Linked DNA regions of Homo sapiens. Changing the gene in region 4 together with the main gene of any one other region gives a genetic interaction. Each region holds a gene or a part of one and is shown on either strand. Other genes may lie near its edges.

The links.
Region 1: changes in ARL5B (region 4) and DCAF7 together harm fitness less than expected from each alone (positive genetic interaction), as found in Homo sapiens cells (one large-scale study listed by BioGRID).
Region 2: changes in ARL5B (region 4) and CHRAC1 together harm fitness less than expected from each alone (positive genetic interaction), as found in Homo sapiens cells (one large-scale study listed by BioGRID).
Region 3: changes in ARL5B (region 4) and TRAPPC12 together harm fitness more than expected from each alone (negative genetic interaction), as found in Homo sapiens cells (one large-scale study listed by BioGRID).
Region 5: changes in ARL5B (region 4) and TRAPPC13 together harm fitness more than expected from each alone (negative genetic interaction), as found in Homo sapiens cells (one large-scale study listed by BioGRID).
Region 6: changes in ARL5B (region 4) and EZH2 together harm fitness more than expected from each alone (negative genetic interaction), as found in Homo sapiens cells (one large-scale study listed by BioGRID).
Region 7: changes in ARL5B (region 4) and RABGEF1 together harm fitness less than expected from each alone (positive genetic interaction), as found in Homo sapiens cells (one large-scale study listed by BioGRID).

Annotation. Positions count from the first base shown.
Region 1 is NC_000017.11:63,577,977-63,581,476, reverse strand, and holds part of DCAF7 (DDB1- and CUL4-associated factor 7), read right to left. Parts: intron 3,008-3,500; coding exon 2,849-3,007; intron 2,141-2,848; coding exon 2,029-2,140; intron 1,653-2,028; coding exon 1,534-1,652; intron 1-1,533. UniProt on the Homo sapiens protein: Involved in craniofacial development. Acts upstream of the EDN1 pathway and is required for formation of the upper jaw equivalent, the palatoquadrate. The activity required for EDN1 pathway function differs between the first and second arches.
Region 2 is NC_000008.11:140,514,322-140,517,654, reverse strand, and holds the end of CHRAC1 (chromatin accessibility complex protein 1), read right to left. Parts: intron 3,287-3,333; coding exon 3,160-3,286; intron 2,530-3,159; coding exon 2,408-2,529; 3' UTR 501-2,407; downstream 1-500. UniProt on the Homo sapiens protein: Forms a complex with DNA polymerase epsilon subunit POLE3 and binds naked DNA, which is then incorporated into chromatin, aided by the nucleosome remodeling activity of ISWI/SNF2H and ACF1.
Region 3 is NC_000002.12:3,417,694-3,421,193, reverse strand, and holds part of TRAPPC12 (trafficking protein particle complex subunit 12), read right to left. Parts: intron 1-3,500. UniProt on the Homo sapiens protein: Component of the TRAPP complex, which is involved in endoplasmic reticulum to Golgi apparatus trafficking at a very early stage.
Region 4 is NC_000010.11:18,676,431-18,679,284, reverse strand, and holds part of ARL5B (ADP-ribosylation factor-like protein 5B), read right to left. Parts: 3' UTR 1-2,854.
Region 5 is NC_000005.10:65,638,527-65,642,026, reverse strand, and holds part of TRAPPC13 (trafficking protein particle complex subunit 13), read right to left. Parts: intron 1-3,500.
Region 6 is NC_000007.14:148,814,792-148,818,291, forward strand, and holds part of EZH2 (histone-lysine N-methyltransferase EZH2), read right to left. Parts: intron 3,327-3,500; coding exon 3,086-3,326; intron 2,601-3,085; coding exon 2,431-2,600; intron 1,988-2,430; coding exon 1,893-1,987; intron 1,164-1,892; coding exon of another isoform or gene 1,157-1,163; exon of another isoform or gene 762-1,156; intron 756-761; coding exon 715-755; intron 249-714; coding exon 123-248; intron 1-122. UniProt on the Homo sapiens protein: Polycomb group (PcG) protein. Catalytic subunit of the PRC2/EED-EZH2 complex, which methylates 'Lys-9' (H3K9me) and 'Lys-27' (H3K27me) of histone H3, leading to transcriptional repression of the affected target gene.
Region 7 is NC_000007.14:66,775,233-66,778,732, forward strand, and holds part of RABGEF1 (rab5 GDP/GTP exchange factor), read left to right. Parts: coding exon 1-161; intron 162-3,500. UniProt on the Homo sapiens protein: Rab effector protein acting as linker between gamma-adaptin, RAB4A or RAB5A. Involved in endocytic membrane fusion and membrane trafficking of recycling endosomes. Stimulates nucleotide exchange on RAB5A. Can act as a ubiquitin ligase.

The DNA.
Region 1 (3,500 bases), on a different chromosome or scaffold from region 4:
GGCTCCAGGAACCCTGCCTCCTCCCATGGTCCCTCTGGCCTATAGGCAGCTGCAGCTTCCTGCTGCTCCCATTCTATGGATGACCTCACTGCTACCTATGTGGCTTCTCAGCTTTACCATCTTCTGTATAAGCAGCCCCTGGATTAAATCCCTGCAGTTCAAATACTTAAGAGTAGTTCCCATTTTCTGGGTTGGACCTAACAGACAACAGCAGGCTAAGTTGTCATATAACTAAAATGTAGCCGCTTGTTCAACTTGATGCCAAGAGGGTTTCCAGAAGTTCCTTACTGGTCCTCTCTGTGGGACAAACTCTTCATTTGACCCCTGGTTTAGCAGCAGTCAACTCTAGAAGTCTTGTAACAGGGCTTACCTTCAGGAGTACAGAAAGCCAAAGACAACCCCTTACTAAGAATGATAACCTGGGTCACATCTTCCTATGCTGTTGACAACCTCAAGTTTCTGACCTAAGATCAAGGCATTCCTTTTATCTGTATAGATATTAATACCCCTAGCTGTGCAGGGTAAGGTAGAAAAGAACAGGAAATAGTACCCACAGGAGATGAGAGTACCAGGAGCATGCAATGGCTGTAGGAGGAAAAGACTTATGGGGATTTTCCAAAATCACTGAGAAGAATGCTTTGATTAAAATGCAATTGGCCGGGCGCAGTGGCTCACGCCTGTAATCCCAGCACTTTGGGAGGCCAAGGTGGGTGGATCACCTGAGGTCAGGAGAGTTCGAGACAATCCTGGCCAACATGGTGAAACCCTGTCTCTGCTAAAAAATACAAAAATTAGCCAGGGGTGGTTGCGGGCACCTGTAATCTCAGCTACTCCGGAAGCTGAGGCAGGAGAATTGCTTGAACCCAGAAGGCAGAGGATGCAGTGAGCCCAGATTGCGCCATTGCACTCCAGCCTGGGCAACAAGAGGAAAACTTTGTCTCAAAAAAAAAAAAAAAAAAAAAAAAAAAAGCAATCACAAATAGCTCTTCTCAGTTTTCCCAATAAACACAGAAGCATCGCCATCAAAATAAAATATATTCCATTGCCTCCACTGCCAACAGTAATGAAAGTATAAAGATTAAGTGAACATACTAGGATTTGGTAAAACATTTATAGAGAAAAATGAATAATTACGTTTGTCTCTCAGAAAATTTTTTCTCTTCCTGTCTCCCTTCTTTCCTCCCCAAATCTAATCTGTTTCAAGATAAGTATTACTCTAAAGTTATTTTTTAATCACATCAGTTCCCAGCTCCTCTATAAGAGACTTTGTTATTTAAAAAAAGCAACCTCTGGCATGAAAAGAACAATGACAGACCGTAGAATAGGTCATTTACATTAGCCAAAAAAAAGCATTAGTTTACAATAGTGTTGTTTTCCCGTTTTTGATACATTACTATTGTCAATTTAGACAAGAAGATGTTATGTTATGATTTTCTACATAAATTGCAGAACAATGAGAGAACAAGCTGACCTCTTCCTGTGCGGAAGGCACAGGAAGCATTTGAGGAAAGACGAAATGGAAAAGCATCTTACCTCTTTGTCATGGGCGATCAGCTGGGTCTTCACGTGGCCAGACACGAGATTCACTCGCCCTAACACCTGCCCTGTCTCCAGCCCCCAGATGGTGCATGTCGTATCAATGCTTGAGGTACCTGCAAACAACCAGTGCAAGTCAGGGCTGACGGGACCAAGGTTCTCATGCAAGCTTCCCTCTTGTGTTTACTCATCTGCTCAGCCCAGGGAGCAGCATACCATAAAGACTACAGAAAACAAGGTGGGGGCTACCGGCAGAGCCACCGAGGCAGTCAAGTCTTCAGTCCTCACCGTAGGACCTTAGATTCTAACTGGAGAGACAAGATCTATACACACGGAAAGCTCACCCACACAAAGGAATTAATAAATAACCACATTCCACGCCTAGCCTACTTCCCACTGAGCCTTGTTCTAGGATGTATGGCCCAGTGTGACATCTGAGAAAATTTATTTTGGCTTCTTCCAGCTGAAATACATACTCCCTAACTCCCTTACCTAAAAGATAAGGATCCACCTCATTCCAGTCAAAGGAGGTCAGGGGAGCACAGAAATCAGAGTTCTTATTATTGTTTAGCAAACACTCCAGCCTGGTCTCTGTTTCACCAACCTGAAGGAACAAGAATTTTAAAAAAAATCAGCCAGTCTTATCCTCATAAAAAGTCTTTTAAAAAATCCCTGTTTAGAAAATATCTTAGCAAACATAAGACATGAGGGGAAAACATTTTTATCAAAAACAGTAATAAACCCAGGACTCCCTGAATGCTACTTTTTCCCATACTTTCTCCTCTGCCCAGCTTTGTTTTCTACATTTTCATCCCTGCACCTTCCTAGAGGAGAGGTCTTCTCACTTTGCCCAGCCTGGAACCTCTGCACAGGTGTACTAAGGCCACGCCCATGCTACAGAGGACGCTGCTGCTGATGAGCTCAGCTGAGGGTGGAGGGAAGCCTCCAAGATCCACTCACACACTTTATCAGAATCAATGGCCTGGTATTTCATTTAGTTTACTCAAAAATACCTTGGCTGCAAACAGAATATGAGTTCCCAAGTATTCCCACCTCCACTGAAGGCCGTCATCATCACCTCGGGTTGACTGAGCTGACTGCAGCCAGCAGCCAGACTTCATGGAATCTTGACTTGATATACTAGAAAATCTGCTGAGCCAAACGAGGCCAGTCCATTTAAGCTTCGCTTGCTTCTCCTGTGCTGCAATGACACTCGCTGCCTCTGACCCCTGTCTGTTCTGTGACTTTTCACTGCTAACAGCTGAGGCTGAGAAAGCCCACTTGTCTGGCTGCTAATAAAGCATCCGCTTACCCTCCACACACGGAGATAGTCACCGCTTGTTGCCAGTAGGTCTGGATAGACGCCTTTTGTGTCAGGGATCCACATGAGCTTTGTGGTGGGGTATGGGTGGTCAAAGGTGTTTCTGCAAATAAACTCTGAACTCTCCTCATCTAAACCAACAAGCTGAACCTGTAACATACCAAAGTTGAGCCACATAAGCATTTGTGAGCAGTACAGCAAATACATTAGATCCCTGGTCAGTGACAGAGGTTTTTTTTGTTTGTTTTTTGTTTTAAAGACAGGATCTTGCTCTGTTGCCCAGGCTGGAGTGCAGTGGTGCAACCACAGCTCAGTGCAGCCTCCACCTCCTGGTCTCAAGTGATCCTTCCACCTCAGCCTCTCAAGTAGCTGGGGTTAGAGGCATGCACCACCAGACACAGCTAATTTTGTTCATTTTTTGTAGAGACAAGGCCTCACATGTTGCCCAGGCTGGCCTTGAACTCCTGGGCTCAACTGATCCTCCCACCTCAGCCTCCCAAAAGTGCTGGGATTACAGACATGAGTCACTATGCCTGGCCAGTGACAGAAGTCTTGACACTGTACTACACTAAACTGCAGAATCAAAAACGATTGCCATGAGAGGGTATCTAGTCCAACCATCCTCTGGCAGACAAGGACACCC
Region 2 (3,333 bases), on a different chromosome or scaffold from region 4:
TGGGCGGATCATTTGATGTCGGGAGTTCGAGACCAGCCTGGCCAACATGGTGAAACCCCATCTCTACTAAAAGTACAAAAAAATGAGCCAAGTGTGGTGACGCCGTGCCCGTAATCCCAGCTACTCAGGAGGCTGAGACCCAAGAATCGCTTGAACCCAGGAGGCGGAAGTTGCAGTAAGCCATGATCATGCCACTGCACTCCAGCCTGGGTGACAGAGTGAGACCCTGTCAAAAAAAAAAAAAAAAAAAATTACAATCATCAAAACTAGAAACAATCTAAATGGGTAATTATCCATATACCTGGAAAATGGATAAACAGATACATCCATACAATGGAATCCTACTCAGCAATATAAAGGAATGGACTGCTGATACCTGTGACAACACGGATGAATCTCAAATGCATTCTGCTAAACAGAACAACTGCAGACTCAAATGCTACATACTGAATGATTCCATTTATATGACATTCTGGAAAAGACAGGCCACCAAACTGGTCTGTAAGCCAAATCAAGTCATTTTTTAATGGCACATAAGCTAGCAAGTATTTACATTATTAAATGGTTGGAGAAAACAGTATTTCATGACACATGAAAATTACACAAAACTCAAGTTTCAGTTTGCAGAAATAAAGCTCTATTGAAACACAGCCACCTGCATTCCTTCATCTAGTAATTACCTGGCTGCTTTCGTGCTACAACAGCTGAGTTCAGCAGCAGCAACAGAGACTATAAAAGCCCACAAAGCTTGAACTATTTACTGCATGGCCCTTTCCAGAAAAAAATTTGATGACACCTGGTATAGGGACAGAGAATAGCTTGACGGTTGCCACGGTAAAAGGTGGGGAAGGAGCTGACCACAGGGAATTTACTGGAGGGTGATATAGCTGTTAATTGTGGTGGTGGTAGTGACTTGACTGCATTTGCCAAAACTCAGAACTGTACACCAAAAAGTAGATTTTAAAATATTTTATTTTAAAATAAATGTCAATGAACAAGAGGGACAGAAAACACCAGTGGTTGCTAGGGGGCAGGAGAAGAGAGGAACAGAGGAACAGAGGGGAATGTCCTGGGTGGCAGAACTGTCCTATCGATTGGTTACAAAACCATGCATTTGTCAAAATTCACAGACTAGACACTAAAAAGGGTGATTTTACTGAATGTAAATTATAAACTTTTTCATTTTTAAAAAAGAGATAATGAAGGCCAGGCATGGTGGCTCACGCCTGTAATCCCGGCGGCACTTTGGGAGGCTGAGGCAGGTGGATCAGTTGAGGTTAGGAGTTTGAGACAAGCCTGGCCAACATGGTGAACCCCGTCTCTACTAAAAAATACAAAAATAGGTTGGGCATGGTGGCACACGCCTGTAATCCCAGCTACTCAGGAGGATGAGGCAGGAGAATCACTTGAACCTGGGAGGCGGAGGTTGCAGTGAGCTGAGACAGCGCCACCGCAATCCAGCCTGGGCAACTGAGTGAGAATCTGTCTTTAAAAAAAAAAAAAAAAAGATAATGAAATGAGAGGAGCCAAACATTTACCCTAAGTGGAAAAAAAAAATTGGGCTTATGATAGGTTTTCTCTTATAGACAGTAAAAAGAAGTGCCAGGAATTTAAAGCAAAGAACAGTAAGATGAGAGAGATCTCCAATATACAAAATGTTTCAAAATTTTTTTTTAGTACAACATGCTTATACAAGAGGTAAGACTTATTTTTGTATTTGATTTGATAATTTGACTTGGAATTTTTCTGTGGGAATAAAAGTGTTAGAATGCTTATTTTTAAATTTCTCAAAATTTGCAGGCAGTAAGCAAGGCCTTAAAGCCATAGAGGGCTCTAAAACTAGTTCCATAAAGCATTTTACTGTAAAAATATGTACAGATCTTTAATAGAAAAGTATATTTCTTTACAGTAGAAAAATATCTGAACAGTCAACTTTTCTTAAGACAAAAATTCAAATGTAACATACTACCTAAACTATAAATTTAGCTAAAACTGAATCGAGCTGTTTATAAGAACTGATTCCAAAATATACATATATGAATTTACATAACCGATATGTAGAAGCTCTTCAAAATCGACTGTAAATTGAAAAGTTAAAATTGGCCTTGCCTCTGCAGTTTGGAGCTGCAATGGCTGCCAGTATCGGCTGTTTTCTTGGTGCCTGAGCTGCAGGGTGGGCCTGTCGAGGAGGGGCTGCTGTCTGGGTCGCTTTCCCTCTGGCTGTCTGTGGCGTAGGTACATGAGGTGCTCAATCTCGGCCTGGAAAGAATACCTCGAAAGAATACCACACACTGGAACTCTGTGAAGAAGTGAAGACGCTAAAAGCGGGCAGTGCTGTGTTTACTTAGAGACAGTGGAGTGGGTCCAGGGCTGTCCTCGCCAGGCTGGTTTTTAAAGCACTTTTGGTTTAGGAGTCAGCTTCATCATGGTCACTTTCATTATCATTGTCATTCTCCTCATCTTCTTCCCTCTTTTCCTCTTTAAGCATTTTCAGGTATTTACTAGCTAAAATCTTCTTTGGTAATATATCTTAAAAACATAAAGCGTACATCAGCAATTGGTTATGGTAGACTATGAACACAGCAATGCACATTTCAAAATGTACTAGTTCCTGCTTTGACCTCTATAAGAGGTTCCAAAACAAGATGAAATTCAGGCTGCATTTCTGGGTAAAATATCAAAGAAACTAGCATTGTCTCCTAACGAACGCTATAGGCCTCTTTCCAGTCCAATGAGTACAAACCATGGTGTCTCTATGAGCTGCTTTTATGAGCAACCCTGCCCGACTACCTGAGATAGCCTAGGCTAGCCCCAGGGTAGACTTAAGCTCTAACTACGGCCATGTAGACCCACCCTGAGTTTTCCCTTCAGTGGCAGGCAGGGTCCCTGTAGAGAGTAAAGGACTGCCCAGCATACGCGGCCAACCAACATCTTGTGAATGTTGTTGGCTTCACTATTGTTCTAGGTGGACCACATGACAAACACATTCAAACAGAGAAGACTAAAAGTATCTTCCTGTGACAACTCATAGTACTTTGCGGCTTGGAAAAAGTAGCAAAAAGTCTAATTTTCCGTGAGAGCAGAAGGGAGGCAAGGGGTGGGGAAAGAGCTATTGATTACTAATCATTTTTTAACCAGAATGTTTCAAAGACTAAGTACCTGCAAGAAACTGAAAAGTTTCTGATTGCTGTGCAGTGTTTGCTAAATCACTGTAAGTCAGTACTTTCTTTTCCTTTCCACTGCCGTGTCTGTAGGAATAGGTGGCTAGGCATTGAACAAAGAGCTCCTAGAACAAAATGAAAAATGCAAATGAAAGGTGTGCTTTGAAAATGT
Region 3 (3,500 bases), on a different chromosome or scaffold from region 4:
AATGGGAAAATAAGATCAGAATGTTTAAACCTTTTAAGAAGCTAAAAGTGGATGCTCACTCTGTCTTTTCTCAATGTAACGGGCACTATCTTTGAATACGGTAGATGTCCTCATTTCTGCAGCCAGTCAATAAACATGCTTTAAGTACCTCCTGCCTGACAGAGACTGCAAGGCTGGCGGGGAGGTTAGTGAACGAGCACTCATTAGTGGTATGATCTAGCAAGGGAGACAGACAATTAAACAATATGTTTCTCAAGAATTAGCTAAATGATTTTGTGTGCATGCCAAGCGCTTCTCTGACAAGAAGTTTAGGAGTTTACATATTTTAAAAACGTGTGGTAGAGCCTGCCACACACTTCTTCTGTATACTAACTCACACACGCACTACTCCCTTTCCACGCCTCCTGCACTCCACGCCGGGACACAGAGAACTCAGGACCTGCTCATGAAACGCCTAGGAGGGCAATGAGTCTCAGCTTTGCACTACAGTTGTTCTGCAGTCCTTTATTTGGGCTTCCTCAGGCAGGAGCTAACGACCTGCTCCAATTCCAGCCACAGCGGCGGTGTGGGGGGCTGTGTTGAAGGCAGGAGAGTGGGGCTTGTGTCTTCCGGGGTTCTGACATGTGGCCTCACACTCACACTGCAGGCTCAGCAATGGCTGAGTTTACAGAGCTGAGGTCATCTGTCCCACCTCACAGATGTGACAATTAAAGAAGATACATGAAAGTGCTGAGCACAGTGCCAGGCAGGAGGCAGGCATTAAAAATGTGAACGATGCTGTTAAAAATTCCCAAACTGTTTCTTCATCAATCCAGAGTCAGCGTGTGCGTGCCTAGTGAAACTCTATGTGTAAGGAAAGGAACGGGTGCTGGGCCTTGAGCTTCAGACAGGCCAGGCTCTACGCCTGAGTAGCCGTGTGACCTGCTGCAAGCCACCAGCCGTCCCTGGGCTGCAGGCATCTCAGTTTCCTCCAGGTCTTCTGAGGGGTTGATAGTTGTTTTTTTTTTAAATGCTGAACATCCTACTGTCCACATTACCAGTGTGTTTACCCACTGACCTATCGAAGGACCCCTTGGTTGCCTCTAGTTTTTGGCAACTATGGATAAAGCTGGTATCAACATCTTTGGGCAGATTCTTGTGTGGATATAAGCATTCGGCATAACTGGGTGAAATATCCAGGAGCGTAATGCAGTAACTGGATTGCTGGGTTGTACCTAAGAGTATGTTTAGTGTTGTAGGAGGCCGCCAAGCTGTCTTCCTAAGTGGCCGTGCCATCTTGCCTTCCCTAGCAGTGAGGGGTCCCACGGCTGCACGTCCCGTGGCACTTGGTGTTGTCCATGCTATTTTTCAGCCACTCTAACTGGCATGCGTTTCACTCTCAGGTGAACTTTCCACCGTTCTCTCATGGAGTTTTTCCTTTCACTGTACCTGCCACAGCCTGACGGTGAGTACTGGCCTCCACGGCACCCACCAGCGAGCTGCAAATATTAGCAGGGCAACTCAAATGAGATTTCTTAAACTCTATCTTGTAGATTTTTTTTTTTTTTTTTTGGAAATGAGGACACCAGAGCGTACACAGTGCAGTTGGAGTCTGTGGTTTTCTTCACTAGCTGGTGTGCGGCCACTGGACCAAGTCAGAGAACCACTGATCGACGGTGAAGATGAGATCGGTGCCACGTTCCCCTAAACTGTCCAGACTACAGCAAGTAATACAGGATTTCTGTGTTCTGGTTGACAGTTCAGAAGTATTTTTAGATTGGTTACGATAATTTACTAAAACGATCTCCAAATGCCTTCTCTAGTCTAAATTCAATGCAATAATCACTTTATATAATACAAATGGCTCTGTATATTCTCTTTGAATTGCAAATGTGAAAGAGTGAGAGGGAAAGAGATTGTGCCAAGTCTGAACCAGTTCTATATATGCATCTAGGCAGATTCTGTATCCAGGGGCAACTAATAACTGCTCCCTTCCTGGTTCCCTAGGCCTAAGGCTCTGGCCTTTCCTGCTAGAAAGGCTGGGGCCCTCTTCCCTCAGGACATGACCTACAGTGAGGACAGGCAGGAGTTAATCAGGGAAGGGGAGGGGGCGGAGACCCTAGAAGAGGACAGAATGTGTGCAAAACAAGGCGAGAGCAGGCATGGGGGGCACAGGGAGCAGAGGGCAGGGTGCAGGGCCCGAGGGGATGCAGTAAGGACCAGCGGGCCGGAGGGAGGCGGTGGAGGAGGGGCCGAGCAGGTGTGGATGAGGAGAGGCTGGGGAAGCAGGTGAGGATGGGGTGGCACAGGAGGTGAGGCAGAGGAGGGTCGGGTGTGCTGGCCTTTGCAGGCTTCCAAGAGCACAGGCCACAGCAGTGTCGTGTCATCACATTTGAAGGCCCCTGTCTCCCTGCACTGATGGGGTGAACTTAAGGCGTCCGTGTAGATGTGAGTAAAGCTATGAGGATGTTCCAGCAGCTGGGCCTGGTGCTGGCAATCTGTGCACATCCTTTGGACGCCCCCCACCCCCTACTGCCTGAGTTGGTAGGCAGAGCTCACAGGAACCCAGAGCCCAGCCTCGTGTGCACCTGCACGGTGATAAGGTTCTGTGCTACCATGGAAGAGCTGGGCATTCACAGCAGAGCTGAGGAGCTGGACAGATACTGTATGGCCAGGAAGTCTACAATGTTTATTCTATGGTCTTTTACAGAAAACGCTGGCGGATCCCAGGTCTAGGCCCCTCGTGGCTCAGTAGTTCATTTCTGTTGACTTCAAGGAGGACTGTGGGCTGACTTCAGCCCGCGAGTGGCTTGCGTCTGATACCTGAGGACGAGGCACAGGAATGGAGATGCTCCTGTAGTCACGTGACAGAGAACTTTATGTGTATGGCATGCAGTGATAACAAAGCAGGGGCCTGCATTTGGCATGTTTTCCATTTTATTCTTTCATGACTGATTATTGTGAATTAGTTATTATTTATATTGATGGTGCAGAGTGGCAGAAGCAGGCGAGTATTTGTAGAGATATGGTTTTCCCATGTTGCCCAGGCTTGTCTTGAACTTCTGGGCTGAAGTGATCTACTCACCTCAGCCTCCCAGAGTGCTGGGATTATGGGATTACAGGCATTAGCCACTGTGCCTGCCACTATGACAATGTTTTTTTTTTTTTTTTTTTTTGAGACAGAGTCTCTATTGCCCAGGCTGGAGTGCGGTGGCACGATCTCGACTCGCTGCAATCTCCGCCTCCTGGGTTCAAGTGATTCTCTTGCCTCAACCTCCTGAGTAGCTGGGACTACAGGCGCCCGCCACCACGCCCGGCTAAAGTTTGTATTTTTAGTAGAGATGGGGTTTCGCCATGTTGGCCAGGCTGGTCTCGAGCTCCTGACCTCCGGTGATCTGCCTGCCTCGGCCTCCCAAAGTGCTGAGATTACAGGCGTGAGCCATCACGCCCGGCCAATGACCATTTTTAAAAATGAGAAACTTAAGGTTTTAATTCTCGTGGAAAGAAGAACAAAGAAGTTC
Region 4 (2,854 bases):
GAAAATAAGGTAAATTATCTAGAAGAGAATTATTTCCAACACAGGCTGGTTCTTTCTAAGCAGCTTACTATCCTTTTCTTAGCAATATGGCTTGTTTTCTCTTTTGCATTGTCATTAGCTATTTCTATTCAGCTATTAATTCGCTGAATTTAAGTTGAATAGCAGTTACTGATACGTTTTTCCCTACTTGGTTGTATTCGTATTCTAAATAAAATAACAGGTGGGAATCAAATAATGGATAAAAATACATTTAATTTCATATTACCTGTATTGCCCTACTATTTGAGGGATTTTTAATTTTTAATAGTAGTATATAAGCATTCAGAATTTTAAAACCAAAAGACATTTTAGAGCTGTAGTTTAAGTTCCTCAGTATGGGAAAAACAAAAGGAAAGCCATGGACACTAATTGTCTAAGGTCAACTAGACAATTGAGAAACGGCCAAATTAAGGCTCAAATCCACTTTTTTAGATGGCTAGCACAATATTCTACTAGATACAAGACACCATGCTGTATCTTGAAGTCACTTTACCCCGGCAAAATGTAAAATAGCCTTTAGGACTGAATTAGAGTGAAGTTTTTTTGGTTCCAAAGCTGTAGACAAAAAGTCTGCCTCATAAAGTTGGTCTCCAAAGATAAATTCCAAAGAAATTTATCCATCTTTAGACACGACACCAGCACATTTTTCTACTGATACGGTTTTACATAGTTAAGGACTAAATAAAAATTGATTATTCAGAATGATTATGTTTATAATTTGTTCTAAGAAACTACACTAAAAAGATTTTTTAAAAAAGCTTCTATATTCTTTAAAATTTTCTTTGTGACCCCCACAACTTTTCAGAGAATATTGTTTACAGCACTGCCTATCACTGTTTCCATACTAAAATAATTATTTTCTCTTTATGCTATAATGAAAGTTAAATTATGCTTAATCAAAATGACTATGGCTATGGGGTGGCACTCATTTAAAATTTTTCAGCAATGAAACTTAAATTTATTACCTTTCTTCTAATGAATATAGAATAAAAGTATTGATACCTTTAAGCATACTAACACAAGAAACTAAAAGCAAAAATTACATATTTAATCTTCAGCTTTTAATAGATTATATATATTAATATTCCAGGTTTTAAGGAATTAAGTTACATTAACAATAAAAAATATTCCATATATTCCCTTATAAAAGGTTCTATTAATTCTAAGAGTTCTCAAATGGGCTTCAATAAGAATGATGGGTTTAAAGATGAAGGACATGACACGCTCAAAATTAAGAAAAATGCTGTATTTGAACTTGCAAGGATAATTGAACACTTTGGTTATAACATACTTAAAAGATTTCTGTTAAAATTTAATTTCCTTGTTTTCAAATTAAAAGGTAGAACAGTCTCCTGAAGGTAATGTAGGTGGGTCCCTTGCTTTTCACTTACTATAAACTGTGCTAACCAATACATGGAGGTGAAGGGGGATATAAAACACAAATTATTTCATCACTGAAATAATTAGCTGCTAACATGACTTCTAAAGAACAGGTATAATATAAAACTAAGAACTTATTTCAAAATATGAATAAAGGCACTAATTACAAATGTACATTTTTTAGACAGTATCTTACAGTTCACTGATTTACAATGAATGTCAGAACCAATGCTCTAGTATTAGATACTTGCTTGGGTTAAAACATTCTCTTGGAGTAAAGAATAATCAGTTTTCACGTTACTGTGACAGGAAAGATTGAGTGAAAACCTAAAAAATACTCTTAAAAAGTCTTACATGAATTTCCTAATCATGAACTTTTCCCAATCAGCACCGTCTACACTGATGCCAATTTCATCTTCAACACATGGCTAACATAAATCATTTCTAATCCAAAACTAACCAAATATTTTTTAAAGGATTTACAAAATAAATTGTATTTTAAAAATTAAATAGCAAATTTGAGTCTATACTAGTAGTTGGCAAAATACAATCAACTATTAAAAACACTTTTAATATAATGCTGATGTGGTAATATAAAAAATAACCATATAATTTGACAGAAGAAAATTGAGCCAGCCAATCTTACTAGATACAAGAAGGCAGATAGTCATTTCATAAGAACAAATACAGGAGTACTAAGTATGCTTTTTCTCAGGACAGACTTAGGGAAACTACCCTCAGTACTTACGGTAAACAACACAACCAAGCAGAAATTCAGGCAAACTGTGCTTAGGTAAATGGCATTTTCTTAATTCCCCCACATCCCACACACACCACAAACCATCCATATCGATTTATGTCTGCTTTTCGCTCATGTTCTTGATTATGGGTTATATTAAAAACTAAGTTAAACTACACTTATCCTCTACTTGATACAGAATCACTAAGAAAACGGCTTAAAACAAAGTTAAACAACTACTTTCCAAAGCCCAGAAAGCTTTCCTTTGGCCACTGTTCAGTTCAAGGGTGTGCTCCAACTAAAGATAAATCAGAAAAATGTTACCACATTCGACTAAATTAACTTGACTAAATATAATAAACCAAGCACACCTGAAAAAAGAGCAAAATTTAAATCAACTTACAAAAATATTAAAATTAAAATACCAATTTTGAACACATATTTTGATATTATGAACTTTGTATCTTTTTTATCAAAATTAAAAAGTACTGCAAAAATGAAGTATTATTCTCTAAGTATTCATTTTATCCCTTTCATTTCAGCAAAATCACACATTTGAATAAACAGGATCGAAATACGACACTTGTCTTTCCTCTTAATTTAAGGAATATATTGTTTAGATTATTGTTCATATTAGACAACTGCCTCAAAAATGTTTTAATGCCATCCAATAAATAAACTTTTGATAGATTATGA
Region 5 (3,500 bases), on a different chromosome or scaffold from region 4:
TTAAGAGCCTACTTTACAGACCTCTATGCAGATAAATGTGAAAATCTACATGAAATGAAATGGATTATTTCCTAGAAAAAAACAGCTTAACAAAATTGACACCCTTAGAGATAAACTGCTTAAACATACTATATTCATAGGAAAAAAAAAAAAAGAAAAAGTGTTATCAGGGAGCTTCCCCATTTTAAAAAAGAAAAGAACTAGCTCATATGATTTTGCAGGGAATTCTACAAATCGTTCAAAGAATAGGTAATCTAAATGATCCACAGTTCTCTGTATTTGTTTTGTCTTGTTTTTTTTGTTTTTTTTTTTTTCTCAGACAGGGTATTGCCCTGTCATCCAGGCTAGGATGCAGTGGCACAATTATAGCTCACTGCAGCCTCGAATTCATGAGTTCAAGTGATCCTCCTGCCTCAGCCTCCCAAGTAGCTAGGACTACAAGTATGCGCCACCATGGCCAGAGAATTTTTAAATTTCTTTTTTGTAGGGACATCGATCATTATATTCCCCAGGTGAGTCCTGGGGATCCTCCTGGATTCAAGGGCTCCTCCTGCCTTGGTCTCCCAAAGTGCTGGATTACAGCCATGAGCCACTGAGTCTAGCCTGATGCACATATTGTTCCAAAGCACTGAAAATACTGGAAAAACATCCGAAATCTTTTATTAAGCAACCATAATACTGACACCTAAAACCTGATCAAAAGACAACACTCACACAAATACAGGTCAATATCAAGCTGTGCTTCATGACCTATATCCTCTTAAGTGATTCTGATGTCACAATTGGCTTATCTGGCCAGATATGGTGGCTCACATGTGTAATTCCAGCACTTTGGGAGGCTGATGCGGGAGGCTTGCTTGAGTTCAGGAGTTCAAGACCTGCTTGAGCAACATAGCAAGACCTTGTCTCTAAAAAATATTAAAAAATTAGACAGGGATAGTGTCACACCCCTGCAATCCCAGCTACTCAGGAGGCTAAGGCAGCAGGATCCCTTGAGCCCATGAGTTTGAGGTTATAGTGAGCTATGATCATGCTACTGCACTCCAGCCTGGGTGACAGAGCTAGATCCTCTCTCAAAAAAAAAAAGAAAGAAAAAGAAAAATAGCATTATTATATATCATGAGTCTGAATGTCTAGTTGAGCCTAAGACCCCTAGTGAGTACTACACTGCTTATAATTATTATTATAAAAGTGAATAAAGGCATGAAATATAAAATCATGTTTTAGAACATGCATACTACTGTATTCTTTGATCTTTATAGTACTGACATCTTAAAGTATATGCCTTTGCTATTTTATTAATCTCTTATAAAAATAAATTCAATATTTACTGAATTTACTGAATTGCCAGTATTTACTGAATTCCAAGAAATTCAATATTTACAACATAGAAAGACAAAAGTATATGTTCTCAAACTTTTGAAAATCAGATCTTTTCACAATCGAATGTAGAGGTTGGCAAGCTTTTTCTCTGAAGTCATTAGCAAATATTTTAGATTTTAGAGGCCATACAATCTCCGTTTCAACTATATACAACTCTGCTGTGGTAGCTGGAAATCAGCCACAGATAAAACATAAACAAATGAGTATGGCTGTGTGTCAGTAAAGCTTTATTTAAGGACACTGACATTTGAATTTCTTTTTTGTTTGTTTGTAGAGGCGGTGCCTTGCTATGTTGTGTAGGCTGGTCTCAAACTCGTAGCCTGAAGCAATCTTCCTGCCTTGGCTCCCAAAGCACTGGGATTATAGGCAGGAGCCACCACACCTGGCCTGAAATTTGAATTTCATGTAATTTTCACAAGTCACAAAATATTCTTTTCAATAATTTGAAAATGTGAAAACCATTCTTAGTTCAAAAGCCTTATAAAAACAGACAATGGACCAAATTTGGTCTTTGGGCTGTAGTTTGTCAACTCCTAATTTAATGAAAGGCAGAGACCCCATCCATATATGACAAACATATGTACGTGTATGCACAAATTTGCATCCAGTTTCTGGAAGTTGGGTCTATTTGCTCTCTAACGTCCTTGTTAACTTTAAAACTCTATGATCATTTTCAAACTCATTCTAATTAGAGGTCCTTTTTGGAATACTCCAATTACCTGAACTCATCACTCTAAGACAGGTTTTACAAAAACCTCTCCCCCACATACTGTGAGTTCTTACCTTCTTTTTGCTCTTTTTCTTTTGAAGAAATTTCAGGTCATTAGCGGAGTTAGCATATTCTATCTTTTAATTTCTACACTACTTCAAAGGTCTTCTAACTGTTCCATTTTCTACAAAGCATCCCACACAATGTGCTCATATCAGTCTTTCTAACACAAAGAGTGCTCAAAAGCCAACTGCCTGCTGTTTTTTATTTAATTTTTTTCAGTGACAGGTCTTGTTCTGTAGCCCATGCTGGAGTGCCCAGGCAAAACTCAATGCAGCCTCAAACTCCTGGGCTTAAACAATCCTCCAGTTTCAGCTTCCTGAGTAGCTGGGACTACAGGTGTGTGCCAGCATGCTCAACTACTTTTTAAATTGTTTGTAGAGATGGGAGTCTCGTTATGTTTCCCAGGCTGGTCTTGAACTCCTGGCCTCAAGTAATCCTTCTGTCACAGCCTCCCAAAGTGTTGGGATTCTGGGTATGAGCCACTGTGCCAGGCCTGTTTTTTTTTTTCTTAATTAATTTTTTTGTCCATTTTAAAAAATAATTTTTCAAAAAAGGTTAAATAAAACCTTAGCCTGGCTTTCAAGATGCTCTATTGTATGGCTACTGATATGGTTTGACTCTGTGTCCCCACCCAAATCTCATCTTGTAGCTCCCGTAATTCCCATGTGTTGTGGGAGGGGCCTGGTGGGAGATAATTGAATCATGGGGGTGGGTCTTTCCTGTGCTGTTCTCATGACGGTGAATAAGTCTCATGAGATCTGATGGTTTTATTTTTATTTTTTGGGGGATGGAGTATTACTCTGTCACCCAGGCAGCCTGGAGTGCAGTGGCACAGTCTTGGCTCACTGCAACCTCAGCCTCCCAGGTTCAAGTGATTCTCCTGCCTCAGCTTCCCAGGTAGCTGGGATTACAAGCACACGCCACCACTCCTGGCTAATTTCTGTATTTTTAGTAGAGATGGTATTTCACCACGTTGGGCAGGATGGTCTCGAACTCCTGAACTCAAGTGATCCACCCGCCTTGGCCTCCCAAAGTGCTAGGATTACAGGCATGAGCCACTACGCCTGGCTGAGATCTGATGGTTTTAAAAATGGGAGTTTCCCCGCACAAGCTCTCTCTCTTTGCCTGCTGCCATCCACGTGAGACATGACTTGCTCCTCCTTGCCTTCCGCCATGATTGTCCCCAGCTACGTGGAACTATAAGTCCATTAAACCTCTTTCTTTGGTAAATTGCCCAGTCTTGGGTATGACTTTATCAGCAGCATGAAAATGGACTAATACAGCTACTATTCCTCTGTACCACCTTACGGACTCTTACCAAGTGAAATTTGTTCACTGTTAAAAG
Region 6 (3,500 bases), on a different chromosome or scaffold from region 4:
ATTGATGAGTTTCGTCAAGTAAACAAGGGAGTGCTCCCATGTTCTTATTTTTGATTTTTTAAATTGCTAACCAAAGACCTATTTAGTTCTCATGCAATTGCATCAAAGCAACAAATACTTACACTCTGAACTACATTGACAAAACTTTTCACAAAAATTTTGTGCTATCACACAAGGGCACGAACTGTCACAAGGCTGCCGTGGATGATCACAGGGTTGATAGTTGTAAACATGGTTAGAGGAGCCGTCTGAGTAAAGATAACATCATGCAGGCCAATGAATCCAGGGAGATGGAAACGATCATACACAATTAACACGAGTACATTCTTCCCTACTACCTGTGGAGTGTAGCTGGCCTGCCTTTACTGAATGCATAACATTACACATATTCCGGTTTCCACAACGATGGCAAAAAATACTCTCCCACCCCCAAGTGCTTATGAGTTCCATCTAAAGCACGGCTACATCTCAGTCCCATCCCAAAGCACTTCTCCTTCAACTGACTCGGACTCACACCTTCCAGTCAGCCTCCACTTTACAGAAGAGAATTGACTGGGGATTCATCAGTAGACGTCCTCCATTCAAATTGGTTTAACATACAGAAGGCAATTATATTAGAATAACCCAAGCTCTAATCCAGTTACTATTCTAAAACAAATGAAAACAAAGCAGATATTGTTAAGCTAATAATGAGAGGAATGGAAAGATGCTAACCCTTTTTCAGCTGTATCTTTCTGCAGTGTGCAGCCCACAACCTGCAAAAACACAAAGAAAATTAAACCAAATTTCTGCGGGAAGCTACAAATCCAACAGAGAGCTGCTTAACTGGATCTATCTGTGCCATGAATACAGGAATGCGTTAAAGCCAAGAGTCATGCCCTGCCCAGTTTATATTTGCCATCAGTTTGAAGCAACTCAAACAGCTTGATGGCTCAGGCTGCCCCAGGTGTGGCAAGACGTCATTTCCTGTGTTCATCCATGACTCCTGGTCAGAACTCCTGAGCTCCCAATGCTGCACAAAGCAGCAGGTGTGTCTGCCTGTTGATTTATTCTGATGTGGATGACACTGATCACTTCCTCTTATTTCAGGCATCATAAACCAAGCAAGTGAACTACGTGGTCAGAAATAATTCAACCAAAATTTCAGAAGCATCTCCTAAAGCCTAAAAAATAAAAATAAAAACTTGACTTTAAAAAAATTCTAAATTGGGTTGGCCCTACACTTATTTTTGTTAAAGTAAGAAAATGTAACATGAGCCTGTACACAATTTAAGAAGCATAATCTAACTGCACCCTTACCTACCCAATTAGGTTTCTCATTTTTAAAAATGTGAGGTAGAGGTATGGGGAGATTAGAGCAGATAGTCCACTCATCAATTTTTCTGGTTCTACATTTACAAATCAAATCAGCCTGAAAACATTCGCTAAGGTGAAAATAACATTCACACAAGCTTAAAGTAGGGTACCCATTAGGAGTATCGGAATGCAATGCCACACAACTTAGAAATTCAAGCTCCTGGAATAAAAGATACTTCTAAAAACTGGCCCAGAGCTCACATCAGAAACACAGAACATTTCATGATGTTAAAGTAATTGTTTACGTAACCTTTACTGCAAAAGCTACTAAATATGTTTTTCTTAACCCAAATGCAGTCTGGTAACCGTAATTTTTATGACTCTTAACATACCAAATATACTGAAGGCTGCTGTATTCTTATAGAAAAATACTAGCAATTCCCAGTGGAAATAAGATTCCATAGTTCTGTTTTTGATGGCAGTTTAAGGTTTTTTAAAAATAGACTAAGTAGAAACCAACAACAGCCCTTAGGAAGGGCCTTGCCTGCAGTGTCTATCTATGTTGACTTCTCTAAGGAGCTTCATGACAGACTCACCGGTGTTTCCTCTTCTTTTTCCTTGGAGGAGTATCCACATCCTCAGCGGGAGCTGGAGCTATGATGCTAGATTCTTTGACTCTAAACTCATACACCTGACAAGAGGCACAGTCACAGAGCCATGAGGACAGTCTTATTTAGGCAAACCATTCTTATACTCATGCATACCAGAAAAATGTCTTTGTCTCTTCTGTGACACTGCTAGATGCTGGGGATATAACACACATCGCTGTCCCTACCCTCACATTAGGGGTAGCTGTAATTATATTCTGGTCAAGAACTGTGATGCTAAATTTCAATTCTTACTAGCTTTTAAAAGCTACTGCTATCTAACCTTAAAAGTCTACATTGGGGAAATTCTGTAACATACCTGGAGAATAATTTTCATTCAATTCCCTCTTGGGAAGAAAAAAAAATTATTTTTAGGAGATGAATAGGAGCTTAGTAATAACCAAGAATTTTCTTTGTTTGGACAACGAGTACAGTTTTATCTCTATGTTTGAAGCTCTTTTAACAACATTTTTATCGGATATCTTACCTGTCTACATGTTTTGGTCCCAATTAACCTAGCAATGGCACAGAAATTGTCATAGTAAGTGCCAATGAGGACTCTAAACATTGAGGCTTCAGCACCACTCCACTCCACATTCTCAGGAGGTTCAATATTTGGCTTCATCTTTATTGGTGTTTGACACCGAGAATTTGCTTCTACAAAACCAAATGTAAGCACTGGTCAAGAAATGATTGGAAATAATATTAAGAAGTACAATTCAGGGTGTGCTTAAGAAAAAAGCGAAAAGATGAGGACAACTCAAATCCAATCGGCAAAACACTAACCCATCGTAGTTCACATTTTCCAACAAAACTACTCACAGAACGTCAAGAATATTAAACCAAATGATCCAAATTTCATTATTCCCTACCTGAGAAAGATCGAAAAAAGAAAATGGCACAAAGAATGAGAATAAAGTGCATCATCAGCTTTCAAACAACCAAGCAGGGCAAACACCACAAGCTAGGGTACGGGTGCAGGCAGGAAACAGAAACAACACAGCTACACATTCTTGAGATAACTCTGGTCTTTATACTGAAACTAACCAACTAAGAAAATTATTCAATGCATTATACATCCTTAATCCTCACAACACGAACTTTCACAGAACAGTAAAACCCAGTTATTAGACGTGTCTTACCAGAGGAGCTCGAAGTTTCATCTTTCTTCTCTTCTTCTTCTTTATCATTGTTCTCTCCCCCCGTTTCAGTCCCTGCTTCCCTATCACTGTCTGTATCCTTTGATTCCAGCACATTAATGGTGGGGGTGCTGGGCCTGCTACTGTTATTGGGAAGCCGTCCTCTTCTGCGGCCTCCTGGACGTTTTGGTGGGGTCTTTATCCGCTCAGCGGTGAGAGCAGCAGCAAACTCCTTTGCTCCCTCCTACGAAATGAAAAATGTCAACATCAGGGCAAAGTTCTAAAACTCATTTTGATGGAAGAGAAAAAAAAATACTATATAAGCCAGGTTAGTCAAAAAATGTATCACATTATCCATTTATCACAAATAATCATTTGCATGTCTAATATACTTGTTTTGATATGCTTTTGATAGTCT
Region 7 (3,500 bases), on a different chromosome or scaffold from region 4:
GCGGGAGGAAGAAGAGGCCTTTGCCAGCAGTCAGAGCAGCCAAGGGGCCCAATCCCTCACATTCTCCAAGTTTGAAGAAAAGAAAACCAACGAGAAGACCCGCAAGGTTACCACAGTGAAGAAATTCTTCAGTGCATCTTCCAGGGTCGGATCAAAGAAGGGTAATGTTCTGATACTCTTTTTTTTCTTCTCTGCCTGAGTGAGACACAGAGGAGATCCCCAATGCTCATAAGCTCAGCTTTGTAATTTCTGTCAACTTTTTGAGAACATCAGCTCAGATTTGACACTGAAATTGGGCTTGAGGGTCAGACAGTATATGAAATCAATACTCTCTTTGGTTGAAAGACATTGTGTTTTAGAGAAATTTGTTTATAGGAGGAATCAAGAGAATTGAAATAGGTACTTTTGCTTATGAAATTCATCCCCATCCAAATGACTATCTCTTTGGATGTTTTGGTTTTTGTGCCTTTATTTGTGGATCCTGGTTTGTTCTGTGGTATAATACCCTCACTGTTCATAGCTTGTCAGAAATGGTGATTTCTAGGCTTGATAGTCATCTGAGAGAGAGATTTTCTGCCTGAGAGCTTATTTGAGAGACAGCTTGTGTCTTGAGGAAGTGTATTGAGAACATATAGGAAAAGGCCCAAGTTGGGCTCTTGGGGGGATGAAAGTGAGCCATAGTAGCTATTTTCCAGTGCATGGATTTGTATGTAGGTGATCATATTCACCCTGCTTTTTAAAATGCCATATAACCAGCAAGAGGATTGTCACTTAAGTCACAGTTGTTCTACCATTGAGCAGACTAGCTAGTTGAAGTGGCCCAACATGAAGCAAGAAAGACTCTTTGTTGTTAGGCCTCAGTCTGTCTTTGAAAATTTATGTTGGTACTCAGAGTTATGCAGTCAAAGCGAAATAATGAGGGAGACTGGGAACCAACACTGATGCTGTCAGAAGACCTGTTCTCTGGGAGCCCCCTCACTTGCTCCCCAGTTCCTACCCTGGGGTAATTGTAATGAGGTCTCCCCTGAAGGCCGGGGAATGAATAATAAGACAGTGTTACTTCTTAAGATACTTGCTGGTCTTCTAGGTTTTGTGACTTTTGCTGTTTCCTTTTGTTTTATTAAAAGGAAATATTGCTCATAACCAAAAACACACCTCTCTTTAAGACATGGATACCAGACCTGGTGCGGTAGCTCAAGCCTGTAATCTCAGCGCTTTGGGAGGCCAAGACAGATGGATTACCTGAGCTCAGGAGTTTGAGACCAGTCTGGGCAACATGGTGAAACCCCGCCTCTACAAAAAATAGAAAAATCATCCAGGCACAGTGGCATGTGCCTGTAGTTCCAGCTGAGGCCAGAAGGCTGAGGCAGGAGAATCATTTGAATCTAGGAGGAGGAGGTTGCAGTGAGCCGAAATCGTGCCATTGCACTCCAGCCTGGGTGACAGAGCAAGACCCTGTCTAAAAAAAGGAAAGAAAAGAAAAAAGATTGATTACATGATTAATTTGAAGTTGTTTCTTGGTTGGCTGCCAGTTGTAGCAATTTTATCTCTACGAAAAAGGGGGGAAAAATTAGTACCTGCCAGAGATTAAATAAGAATGTATTGGGCTCATGATTTATTTATTAGGAGGTGGAATAGCCAGGTAGTAAGGTGACTTTGGAGTCACTCCTGGTTTGAGCCCTAGCTTTGTATTTACCAGCTTTGTGACCTTGGACAGACTAACCTCTCCGAGTCCTGTCCACACTGAGGGACAATAATACCTACCAGAGGCACGTGATGAGGATTCAGTGAGTTAATGCATGTAAAGAGCTTAGCACAGTGCCTGACACACACAGTAGATCTCCAGTAAGTGTTAGCTGTTTTAAAATGCAAGTTATTCTTCTGATAGAATTATCTTGCAGGGAGCACAAGGGCATTTGCTATGAAGAATACTCATTCCTATTTAGCTTAAGGTCTGTTTCTTGATGATATGTAGTGAAATGATAAGTATTTATGATAACAGATGAAATAGTAAAACAAGTATAAAATTATCAGCTCCAATAGCCTCATTTTGCAGAGGACAGTGTGAAAGTCCATAAAGGTTAACTAATTTACCCAAGGTTGCACAATGAGTTTGTGCATGAGAACTCATGTCTCCTAATTCCTGGGTCAATATTTTTCCATTATATTCCTTTATCCAATGTGTATACTTCAGAAGCCCAGGTTATTTAATATATATCATAAATAATATATATATATGAAATTAAGTTTCTGTTACTTAAGTACATAATTGTCATTTATATTTGCTAACTCTCCTTGGTGGTTTTAAAAACCTGTGTCCCAAAAGCCTCTGTACAGTGTGCATTATACTATTGAAAGAAAATTTACAATTCAATGCAGAGTCTGTACTTTAAAAAGAAACATTTCTGGAGCTGGGTGCAGTGGCTTCTACCTACCTATAATCCCAGCTACTTGGAAGACTAAGGTAGGAGGATTACATGAGCCCAGGAGTTAGTGGCTGCAGTGAGCTCTGATTGTGCCACTGCACTCCAGCCTAGGCAGCAGAGTGAGACACCAACATTAAAAAAATTAATTAATTAATAAAGAATCCAGGTGAATTTTGTTTTAAAAATATGTATGCAGAATGATTTTTACCTTTGTTCTTGTCTCCCCTCATCCCCCATCTTTTTGAATGATAGATTTGTACTTTAGATTGTTTGTTCTTTAGTTGCTTTTTGTCTGTAGAAAGCTTTGGGGATAAAGACCTTAAAGTATTTTAAAAATTCATGTTAGAAAAGAAGATTCCATTGTATCTTTGTTTCACAGATCACTTAATATAACTTAGCCAGGTAAATTTTGCATTTCACACTGATTACTTTTGTTTGGCCATTGTGTTTGGATAAGATTAGCCTAAGTGCCGTTTTAATGTATTAGGTCTAGACTAGAAACAGACTTTTTGGATTCTGTATTCTTGAATCTTCCTTAGTCCATGATACCCTTGCTGTTGGTGTTTTACTTGCTTCTGTTAGTAGCATAAAGGAAAGTTTTTATGCCATACGTAGCAGCTTGGTAGCAGACAAAATACAAATAACCTTCTAAGGAATTTGAAGAATATCTTCACATTCTTTTAGAGTTGGATACGCCTTCAGAGAAAGTAAATGGAATGTCTTGACTGTAAAGACTCAGTTAAAGTGTTTTAGTCTCTACAGTCAGGGTGAGTGAGCTGTATAGAGGAAGTCATAGTGGTTGACCAAGCTGAGATACTTGCTTATACATTCCAAAGTGCCCTTTTCTTTCAGAACTCCTATAATGTTGTCATTCCAAGTAGAATCTTGTGTACCTCTTTCATGAACGGATCTGAAGACGGTGATTCTCTAAAGCATATCTTTTCATTTTTAGAGTTAAAATACCAATACCACCCAGACCTTAGAAAGTAAACCTATTATTCATTAAAGTGAATCAGGGCTTCTTGGAGAAGTGACTGATTCTGGGGCTAGAGTAGGGAAAAAAGGGCCCCTTCA